3 linked regions of the Homo sapiens genome follow. The protein of the gene in region 3 purifies or fractionates together with the protein of the main gene of each other region. This does not show direct contact. Each region holds a gene or a part of one and is shown on either strand. Other genes may lie near its edges. The genes, in order: BMPR2, ROBO1 and SLC16A5.

What was found.
Region 1: the proteins of SLC16A5 (region 3) and BMPR2 purify together in Homo sapiens (affinity purification with mass spectrometry; one large-scale study listed by BioGRID and IntAct). This does not show direct contact.
Region 2: the proteins of SLC16A5 (region 3) and ROBO1 purify together in Homo sapiens (affinity purification with mass spectrometry; one large-scale study listed by BioGRID and IntAct). This does not show direct contact.

The regions. Positions count from the first base shown.
Region 1 is NC_000002.12:202,561,252-202,564,868, reverse strand, and holds part of BMPR2 (bone morphogenetic protein receptor type-2 precursor), read right to left. Parts: 3' UTR 1-3,617. UniProt on the Homo sapiens protein: On ligand binding, forms a receptor complex consisting of two type II and two type I transmembrane serine/threonine kinases.
Region 2 is NC_000003.12:78,665,927-78,669,582, forward strand, and holds part of ROBO1 (roundabout homolog 1 isoform a precursor), read right to left. Parts: intron 2,640-3,656; coding exon 2,558-2,639; intron 2,377-2,557; coding exon 2,208-2,376; intron 2,124-2,207; coding exon 1,957-2,123; intron 1-1,956. UniProt on the Homo sapiens protein: Receptor for SLIT1 and SLIT2 that mediates cellular responses to molecular guidance cues in cellular migration, including axonal navigation at the ventral midline of the neural tube and projection of axons to different regions during neuronal development.
Region 3 is NC_000017.11:75,094,396-75,098,051, forward strand, and holds part of SLC16A5 (monocarboxylate transporter 6), read left to right. Parts: intron 1-3,642; coding exon 3,643-3,656. UniProt on the Homo sapiens protein: Proton-linked monocarboxylate transporter.

The sequences.
Region 1 (3,617 bases), on a different chromosome or scaffold from region 3:
TTCATCGTGTTAGCCAGGATGATCTCAGTCCCCTGACCTCGTGATCCACCGTCTCGGCCTCCCAAAGTGCTGGGATTACAGGCGTGAGCCACCGCGCCCAGCCTAACTATGAGGTGATTTAAGGAAAGTAATGGGAAGGTGCACTTAAATGCCCTGTGATTCCCTCTTTTCTTTATGTTAATCTGGAAACTTGTAGAAAAGCCTTCTCTTGATAACAAATTTTATGTAACTAGCTCAAACAGTGATTTGCCAGATTTACTTAATCAAGGAATATATTTAGGAGGGAATCATGCAAGATAGTTTTGGGTAAAGTTTGCACAGTTCATAATCTAAAAGTTAAAATGCAACCTTATATGCTGGAGAGTAAACTGCCAGTAACAGTACATTTAGAAACATTGCATTCTGAAAAAGTCTCCTGGGGTTTATGTGGGAGTGTTACAATTTCCAGAATGACTGGTCTAGATAATCAACATGTGTGTCCGGATTTTAACTTTAAGAAGTTAGATGGGAAGATAAAGCAATATATGAAGCAATCTGTGAATAGTTACATAATAACCTGCACATAACAGGTAGTAAGTTCAACATAACTTTATAAAATGTTGTATGGAAATATAATCTCAAATTCTAGGAGTTAATGATCTCCAATAAAATATTCATGTCCATAAATATGAAAAAAGGAAAAGCTCATTGAAATATTTTTCCATTTTAAATGACTTTCAGGAGGCACTTACAAAGACTAGAAATTTCAGTGTAACAGCTACAGCCTACCAATTCCACTTGGCTGTAGAAGTCAAATTTGAAAATAATTTAAATAAAAATACTTGCCAATGTTTTGTGATAATTCCCACTGAAGCCCACACTTACTTGAGTGTTCCTTTCTCTCTTTAAATATTTTCACATTCAGAACCAATGCACATTTTCTGGAACAAGTGGATACATGTAAAGAAGCTATACTAAACTTTTATAAAAAGGACATTATATCCTTGTATCCTTCCTATATCCTACTCAATTAGTTCTATAGATTAGTAAATTTTCTAAAGTTATTAAAAGCAGAAGTTTTGAAGATGGATTCAAAGGATTGATGAGACTGAAATTCTTTGTTAATTCCCCCAAATCTGCTATGGAATCAATTTAGGGAAAGGTCTCTGTTCCCAAAGCTATCTTAACTTTTTCCGTAAAATTTACTTTACCATTAGTTCTGCAATGTAAGAAATGTTAGGAGTGAAGTGAAATGATTTTAAGATTCATGATGGAAGATACAGGATTGAGTTTTGTCTAGAATTAGTAATTATTTCTCAAGCAACAATCAGCATAGATATGTCTACATATCTCATATTTGCCTAACTTCCCAAATCATTAAGGTATGTGGTTTGGCTCATATACAAATGAAAATTGTGCCAGAGTATAGTGACTGAATTTTTATGTTTTTTTTTTGAGGCAGTCTTGCTCTGTCGCCTAGGCTGCAGTGCAGTGGCGCGATCTCAGCTCACTGCAACCTCCACCTCTCGGGTTCAAGAGATTCTCCTGCCTTAGCCTCCTGAGTAGCTGGGACTACAGGCGCCCACCACCACGCTCAGTTAATTTTTAAAAAATATTTTTAATAGAGACGGGGTTTCACCATCTTGGCCAGGCTGGTGTTGAACGTCTGACCTCATGATCCACCCGGCTCGGCCTCCCAAAGTGCGGGGATTATAGGCATAAGCCACTGCACCTGGCCTGAACTTTTTAAATAAACGTTAGCCCATTACACATCCTGTCATATGGCATGTAGGCAGTGTGGTATGGATGAAAGAGATGTGGAGAGAGGCAGACATAGACTGAAATCCCAGCTTTGTCTGTTACTAGATGTGGACCTTGGGCATATTACTTAGCTTCTCTTAGCTTCAGTTTCCTCATCTGTAAAATGGGAATATTAATTACAATGCTCATATGGTTGCTCTGAGGTTTAAGAGAAATAGCATATGTATACTTCAGCATTCAGTATGTGCCTTCTTGTAACTTCCTACACTGGTAACAGTGGGTTTTTTTTTTTGCCAATTATGCATTTAGAAAGTTTTAAGAATTTACAATTAAATCATTTTTGTCTAAACGTAATTCAAATCAAGTTCTTTCAGTGACCTAATTCTGGTATACAGTTAGGATTTTGTTAAGGGAACTAATATTAGACTTTACCTATTATGATGCTTTTAAGGTTACATTACCATCCAGTGAAATAAATTTTAATATTTTTAGTTGAATGATCTTTTATTCAAAAGGACCCCACTTTTCTACATATAAAACTTTGTGATAGCAGTTAAATGTCAACTTTAAGAAGCATTTATTATCAGATGAGTATTAGCATACAATTAAGTCATTTAAAATAATTTTGCTTGCTTGTATATTACAGATTTTAAAAGTCTGATGTACAATTTAAAATTTATAAAAATGATATATACTTTCCACCTTTCCTACTTTTTCAGGAGTTTACTAAGAAAAACTGGTGAAAGGAAATTATTTGTTTTAAACATGCTTGAATGAAATAGTAAACTATTCAGTTATTTTAATCTGGCATATTAATTTTTAAAGCATTTTATCATAATTTTCCCAATATTAAAAAATGTTGGACAACCTACAATCAACTGGCCCAAATACAAATATAGCAGAACGTAAGATAACTCTTCTGGCAGGAAAAGATCAGTTAGACCTCAAATGGTCATTTATCCTCAATGCTTCAAATTGGAGAAGGAACATAATTTATTTTGATTCAAAGTTGTCCTACAAATATTTGAAAAGAATATCCTAAAATGCATGTGAAAGATATTTAAGGGCAAGAGAACTAAGTGAAAATGTACTAGGAAAGATAAAAATAATTTGTTAATAGAAGAATAATAACTGTGAAAAAAATTACGTGCCAGAAGACTGAAAATAGATTAAGGGGCTGAATAAAGAAAAGGGCCAATAAAACACAAAACGTGGAAATCCTGGGCACTAACAAGATATTCTTAATTCTATGAATCCAGAACTGTGTTCAGCAATCCAGCTGAATAAATGGTAGGTATAGTAACATCTAACTTGTAAGATCACAGCACATGGCAAATGAGAAGGCTTATATACAAGTAAATCACAAATATTTTGGACAGAAAATTGGGAAATTTAGGCTGTCTTTAGCTAAGTGATAAGATAGAGGAATATGAGTGAGAAAATATTGTTCAGGAGATAAAAACATAAATCAGAAATTTGGTGATTTGTGTTTTCCTCTTAACCTTTTAATCCCTGGAACTATCTTAGAACTAAACTATATAACATTTACTAAGTACTCTGATAATCGAAAAAAAAGTAAAAAAAAGTGAAATCATCAGTTTGCAAATTAATAGAAAATAATTTCTGTTTAGAAAAAAGTCCATTATTTGACAGAAAGTGCTTTATTTAAAAAAAACATGCAGAGGTTGTTTTAGAGGAGATTATAAGTAATGAAAGAAGCAAAGGGCTTTTAAAAATAATATGATTTCAAGTCATTTTATTACTAAAAGGTATACTCTAATGTAAATAATAAATGTTGCTCACATATCAAAGATAATGTGAAAAACTGGCAAAAGGAAAAATTATGAAAATAGGATTAAGGAAGATAACACAATTTT
Region 2 (3,656 bases), on a different chromosome or scaffold from region 3:
TGTCCTCACCCAAATCTCATCTTGAACTGTAGTTCTCCTAATCCCCATGTGTCACGGGAGGGTCTCGGTAGGAGGTAACTGAATCATGGAGTAGTTACCCCGTGCTGCTGTTCTCGTGATAGTGAGTGAGTTCTCAGGAGACCCGATGGTTTTATAAGGGGCTTTGCTCACTTTTGCTCGGCACCTCTTGCTGCCACCATGTGAACCGGGACGTGTTTCTTTCCCCTTCTGCCATGATTGTAAGTTTTCTGAGGCTTCCCCAGCCATGCTGAACTGTGAGTCAATTAAACCTCTTTCCTTTATAAACTGCCCAGTCTCGGGGAAGTTCTTTATTAGCAGCGTGAGAAGAGACTAATACATTGTTCCACTAGCTATGCATATGCAAAGGCAAATTGACAGAAATGTTAAAAAGACTAAATGAATGTTCAGACAGAATGCTAACTTACTGCTCACTTACAAATGAGGTTACATATTCCAGAATCATGCATGTGAGTACAGGACAAAACGGTGTTAAGCTCTAGTCATCAAAACCTTTCAGTTAGAGTCTACTGGCTGGAGACCACTGTACTGGGGACAAAAGTTTAAATTCATTTTATAGCTATCATTGGGTCTACATTCTTTACAAATGTGTATCTAATATCAAAAACCTCAGACTGCCTTAAGGCAGGCTGCAAGTATAGTAAAGCTCCTGGAGAGGTGATTCATAATAGCAAATATGAGCTATGGGTGTGTTACATTCACACAAGAGACAAACGTGGGCATGTTCTACAACTTGGTGTGCTTTTTCTGCAAATTCTGAAACAAAAAGTGCTTCCAAAAAGACTGTTTCTGTACATACTTGAAGTAACAAAACAGCAACATGGCTGGCAGACCCCTCTCCCAAACCAGCAGCAAAGGACTTTAAGTCTCAGTCATCTTGTGTATAACTTGTTTCTATTAAAATAACCAAGTCTATTTTTTTTTCTTTTTTCCTTTGTTCCCTTAAGATAGAAACACTATCCCTCTGTATGTTGAGAAAATAATTTTATAGTTCGAATCACTCCCCTCTAGAATTACCTTTCTTTACTAATATAAAAACAAGCACATTTTATTTACAATGACGTGATTTTTTTCCAAAAATAAAAGGTATCCAGATATCTCTCATATTTATGTGATCTCAAGAGAGTATTATTTGATTAGGGTTGTAATCTAAAAATTCATCCAGAAGGTTGTGAGTACTGAACTTATAAATAAATAAAATTTGGTTAATTTTAAATACAATTATAATATGATTAAGATTGTACACCTACATGTTACCATATTTAAAATTCAGGAAATTGAATAGAATACACAAATATTCACATATTTTTAAAATTTATGGGTACTAACAGGTGTATATATTTATGGGTACATGAGGTATTTTGATATAGGCATACAGGGCATAATAATCACATCAGGGTAAATGGGGTATCTATCACCTCAATCATTTATCCTTTGTTTGTGTTACAAACATTCCAGTTATACTTTATTTAAAAATGTACAATAAATTATTATTGACTGCAGTCACCTTGTTGCTATCTAATACTAGATCTTATTCATTAGATCTAACTATTCTTTTTTTTGTACCCGTTAACCATCCCCACCCTCCCCACAGCCACCCTACTACCCTTCCCAGCCTCTGGTAACCATCATTCTACTTTCCATCTCCTCACGTAATATTTTTGTCTTGATATATTTGTAATTTTATGAGAAACAGTTCTCTTTGTTAATCCATCTTATGTTGGTATGCTTAGTCCAGAAAATAATAAAGTTTGTAGACATTGTGTTTGTATATTAAAAATTAATTAAGCAACTTGGGCAACTTGAACAACACACTGTAAATGTACAATTCTAGCATGTAGCACAAGTGATTTGTCAGTGCAATTATAACATCTAAGGATAAGTAGGTGTCACAGGTTTAAGTAAATCAATATTTACCTTGTGTTTTCACTGGATCTGATATTTGGCTTGGATCACTAATTCCATATGCATTAGCTGCCCTCACAAGGAAAAGGTAAATTGCATTAGGTTTGAGTCCTTTAATGGCAGATGTTTCTGTTTTCACATTCTCTGCTACGGTCTGCCAGCTGCTACCAGATGCATGGCTAAGGATAGACACACAGGTTAGAACATGCGTATTTAATGGAGAATCAAAAAAGAACAACTAGGAAGCATCTCCTTCACTCTACCTGAAGGCTTCTATAATATAAGATGTTGGAGTTGCTCCTGAATTCAAATTTGGTTGCCACGATAATGTGACTGTATTTCTGCTGACATCTGTCACTTCAGGTTTTGATGGGGCACTAGGGATTAAATTTGGGTCAGTAGGTCTTGGAGGCTGAACTGGAACTCCAAATTCTAAAAAGCAGGAAAAAGGCCAAAATAAAAGATGTTTACACATACACAGATAAGCGGATAAATGCAGATAACATATTCATACACCTACTCAGGGAAGAGGACATTTACTTCATCAATATCCCAGTAAGTAAACAACTGCATTTTAAGCTTCACTTTAAGGGAAACACACCATTTACTTTACCTTGAACTTCAATGTAAGCACTCCATGTTGCTTCACCACTGGGGGTTGATGCAATGCAGGTGTACCGACCAGTATCACCCAGCTGAGAAGGCAGACAAAAAATAAATATTTGGAAAAATCAAGAACTCACTGGGCTGGAAAAGCAATTACAGGTTTGTATATGATCCATGAATATGGATAACTGCATTAAAATTCACTAACCAGAAACTTCCCCTTAGTTGAATATATTTTTATTGAATGTGAAGGAAAATATTACATCAATATAGAAAAAAAGATTTTATATGATTGTTCTAATGGTATAATAAGAAATATTTAATTGCATTAGCATATATTATCATCAGTCTCAGGGACAATAATTCCTAAGGTAAGGCATACAATTCTTCAAATTTAGAGCGTTAATATTTATGGCTAAGATATATCTTTATGTTTAATAAGTTATATAATAAGGCTGATAAAGTTTAACCAATGCCTATTCTTGCTATTTCATATTTTACTTATATATTTAACTATATGGATATATGAGATCAACAGAAAAAGGATAGGCATCATAGAATTTTTTTCTTAAACTACTGACTTTTCCGGGTTTTAAAACTTGTAACTTAAGGCAGTTTAAGAAGTACAAAGCCAAACTCAAGCTGGAACGAACACTCTCGCTCCCTTTTAAAAACTGAATGTCAGAAGGCAAACATAGGTTACATGTTCAACTTTGAAATCAGCAGCAGGATAATAAACCCATCTACTTCTGCTCAAGCTAATAACTATCTTCAAGTAACATTTGATAAAGAAAGAATGTTGTCATCTTGCCCTGGCAATTGCAGGAACCAAGTCACAACAGTCACAAAGCAGCACAACATATTAACTGTTGTGGCACTTAAAGTGAACTGTGATGCTGATCCAATACTCCAAAGGAACCACCCACACTAGGAGATAAAGCAACTGAAATTCATGTTTATTGCTGTCAGGACTATTCTTTCATATGCCTCAGGAGCTCGTCTGATCTTGACATAAAAAAAGAAGAAAAATCAAAACAATAAAGTCCTGAAAGAGCAGGCATGGGATATGATGCCCTGTGAAAGTAAATCCTTAAATGGTTCCTACA
Region 3 (3,656 bases):
ACCAGGAATGGCCGGGCGCGATGGCTTACGCCTGTAATCCCAGCACTTTGGGAGGCCGAGGCGGTCAGATCACCTGAGGTCGGGAGTTTGAGACCAGCCTGACCAACATGGAGAAACCCTGTCTCTACTGAAAATACAAAATTAGCTGGGCGTGGTGGCGGGTGCCTGTAATCCCAGCTACTCAGGAGGCTGAGGCAGGAGAATCTCTTGAACCCAGGAGGCAGAGGTTGCGGTGAGCTGAGATGGTGCCATTGCACTCCAGCCTGGGCAACAAGAGTGAAACTGTCTCAAAAAAAAAAAAAGACACCAGGAACAAGAGGGGGACAAGGCAGGAGCCCCAGCTCTCCCGGGACTCCCTGCAGAGAGGAGGTTGCTAAGTGGGGGTGAGGGAGGAAGGCAGCCCCTGTCTGCCCCTTCTCCTGGCTCTGTCACCATAGGCCTCAGAGGCCCATGTTCCTGGCTGGCTTTTCCAGGAGTGTGACTGCCTCACCCTGACCCCAGCGTTGGGAGCAGGGCAGAGGGAGGGTTCTCTGCAGTCGCCGTGGACACAGGGACCTGCCCTCAGCTCCTGGGAGCTCTCCAGGGAGACTGCAGAGACCCCGGCCTCGGAGGGGCCCGGTGGACAGCAGCCCGAGCTGATGGCCCACAGGCCTCTGCAGGCGTGTGTCTGCTGGCCGCAGCTGCCCATCTCCCCGGCTACCTCCTGGCTACTCCCTCCACTTGCCACCAGCAGCCTGCCTATTATTCCAGGTCCTGCCCTCAAACTGGGAGGGAGGTGAGGCTCGGAGAAAGCGCCACCCTCCTGGGTGAGCTCTGAATCTGCCACATGGCCTCTGGCCTGCAGGGTTGGGGCAGGGAGTGGGAATCCCAGAGGGCTGCTTCTCACACAGGCAGAGCAGGGTTCCTGGGCCAGGGGCTAGGAACCGGGCACCCGGCGGGGAACCTACTCCCCAGCTGACTTGCGGCTCACCACCCCCAGCAGGCATCTCAGCATCTCCATCAGCATGGGATTCCTGGCTGGCCATCTCTCTCATGTACACATACACGTGTATGAGCCCGTGCTCATTCAGAGTACTGTAGACATTTTATTTTATGTTTATTTATTTATTTGCTTATTTTTGAGACAGAGTCTCACTCTGTCACCTGGGCTGGAGTGCAGTGGCATGATCACAGCCTATTGCAGCCTTAACCTCTCAAGCTCAAGCGATCCTGCCACCTCAGCCTCCCGAGTAGCTGGGACCACAGGTGTGCACCACCACACCCAGCTAATTTTTTTTTTTTTTAGATGGAGTCTCGCTCTGTTGCCCAGGCTGGAGTGCAGTGGTGCAATCTCAGCTCGCTGTAACCTCCGCCTTCCAGGTTCAAGCGATTCTCCTGCCTCAGCCTCCTGAGTAGCTGGGACTACAGGTGCGCACCACCATGCCTGGCTAATTTTTTGTATTTTTAGTAGAGACGGGGTTTCACCGTGTTAGCCAGGATGGTCTCGATCTCCTGACCTCATGATCTGCTGGCCTTGGCCTCCCAAAGTGCTGGGATTACAGGTGTGAGCCACCACGCCCAGACCATACCCAGCTAATTTTTTTACTTTTTGTAGAGACGGGGTCTCACTATGTTGCTCAGGCTGGTCTCAAACTCCTGGGCTCAAGTGATCTACCTGCCTGGGCCTCTCAAAATGCTGGGATTACAGACATGAGCCACGGCACCTGACCACAGTATTGTAGAAATTTTTAAACACGATGAATCATGGATACTTTCACTGATCCTTTCAAGTGCCCCTGCCCCTACCTACGCCTTTTAGAGGTAAGGAAAGCAAGCAGGCACAGAACACAAGACCTGCCCAAGGCTGAAGAGTGAGTTCACGGCAGAGGAAACACCCTGTGTCCCGCCCGGCCACACCACCCTCAGCTATGCAGCTCTGGCCTGCAGCCCAGTCCCCACCCCCACCCCTGTGACTAAGGGCTTTCCCCAATGTCAACTTCCCTAAGTCAGGCCAGAGTCTCTGGCGTGAGGAAGCTCTGTGGGTCAGTCCTCTCCAGAGCCACCTCCCCCTCTACAGGGGCAGAGACGCCGGGCCACCAGCCTCTGCTTGATTATGTCTGCGACGGGCTGCTCACTTAGTCTGTCACTTGCTTTTTTCTTTTTTTTTTTTTTCGGAGATGGAGCCTCCCTCTCTCACCCAGGCTGGAGTGTAGTGGCACAGTCTCGGCTCACTGCAACCTCCACCTCCCGGGTTCAAGCGATTCTCCTGCCTCAGCCTCCCTAGTAGCTTGGAATTACAGGCATGCGCCACCACACCTGGCTAATTTTTGTATTTTTAGTAGAGATGGGGTTTTACCATGTTAGCCAGGCTGGTCTCGAACTCCTGACTTCAGGCGATCCACCTGCCTCGGCCTCCCAAAGTGCTGGGATTACAGGCGTGAGCCACCACGCATGGCCACTCCATCACTTTTTTTTTTTTTTTTTTTTTTTGAGATGTAGTTTCACTCTGTCGCCCAGGATGGAGCGCATCGGGTTCTGCCTCCCAGGTTCAAGCGATTCTCCTGCCTCAGCCTCCCAAGTAGCTGGGATTACAGGCACGCACCACCATGCCTGGCTAATTTTTGTATTTTTAGTAGAGATGGGGTTTCACCATGTTGGTCAGGCTGGTCTCGAACTCCTGACCTTAAGTGATCCACCCACCTCGGCCTCCCAAAGTACTGGGATTACAGGCGTGAGCCACCACACCCAGCCTACTCTGTCACTTTTATACTCACACTGGCTCACACCACACATCCCCCCTCCACCGCAGACACACACAAGCATCTCATGCGCACACACTTCCCTGTCCCTTTAGTTGCACTCTCGGAGAGTAAGTTAGAGAAGCTCCACATGTGCTTGGGTGAATGGGGCCCCTGTGAGGTGCCAAGGAGCAGTCTGCAGCTCTTTTCTATTTTTTTGGGGTGTGGATTGGTGAGAAAGCAGCTGGGAGCCAGGCAAGGAACAGGCCCCCCTCCACATTGAGCCAAACCTCTAGGTGCAGACTTTGGTGGTGCTGGAGGTGGTGTGGGAGGGGAGAACCTACCCTGCCTGATTGTCTGCAGAGGCCAGTGCAAGGAGGCGCAGAGGGGCCCAGGGTTCCCCTCAGCTGTAGGGCTGGGAAGGTGGTGGGAGGGTGGGAGGGATCTAGCCAGTCTTCCTGAGGATGTTGGGTGTGGGGATGGGGCAGGTAAAACAGGATCTGAAGGTGCACACTGTAGTCTAGATGTCCTGGAACACTGCCCCGACTCCTCCCACCAACAGACCCCCAGCGAAGTGGGGGAGGTAAACTCATGAACCAATCCTGTTTCACCCGGATAGAATGAGCAGCCTCAGGTCTGTGTAGTTCAGGGTCTTGCTCCACCTTTCAGGGAATCCTCATCAGGGTCAAACATCGCCCATTCTGAATCCTCACTTTGTAGGGGAAAAAATTGAGGCACGGAGAGGGATCAGGCTTTGCTCAGGCCACATGGCCAGTCCATGGCAGGTGGGTATCAGAATCCAGGCCTGCTCGTGCCCTTGAAACCACCTGGCTAGTTCCAGCTGGAACTGCCCTCTCCAGCCACTCTCCTCCTCTCCCGCCACCTCCTCATTCAGCTGCTACCTGCTGGCTGTCTTCTCCCACAGGGCCCCTGTGCAGC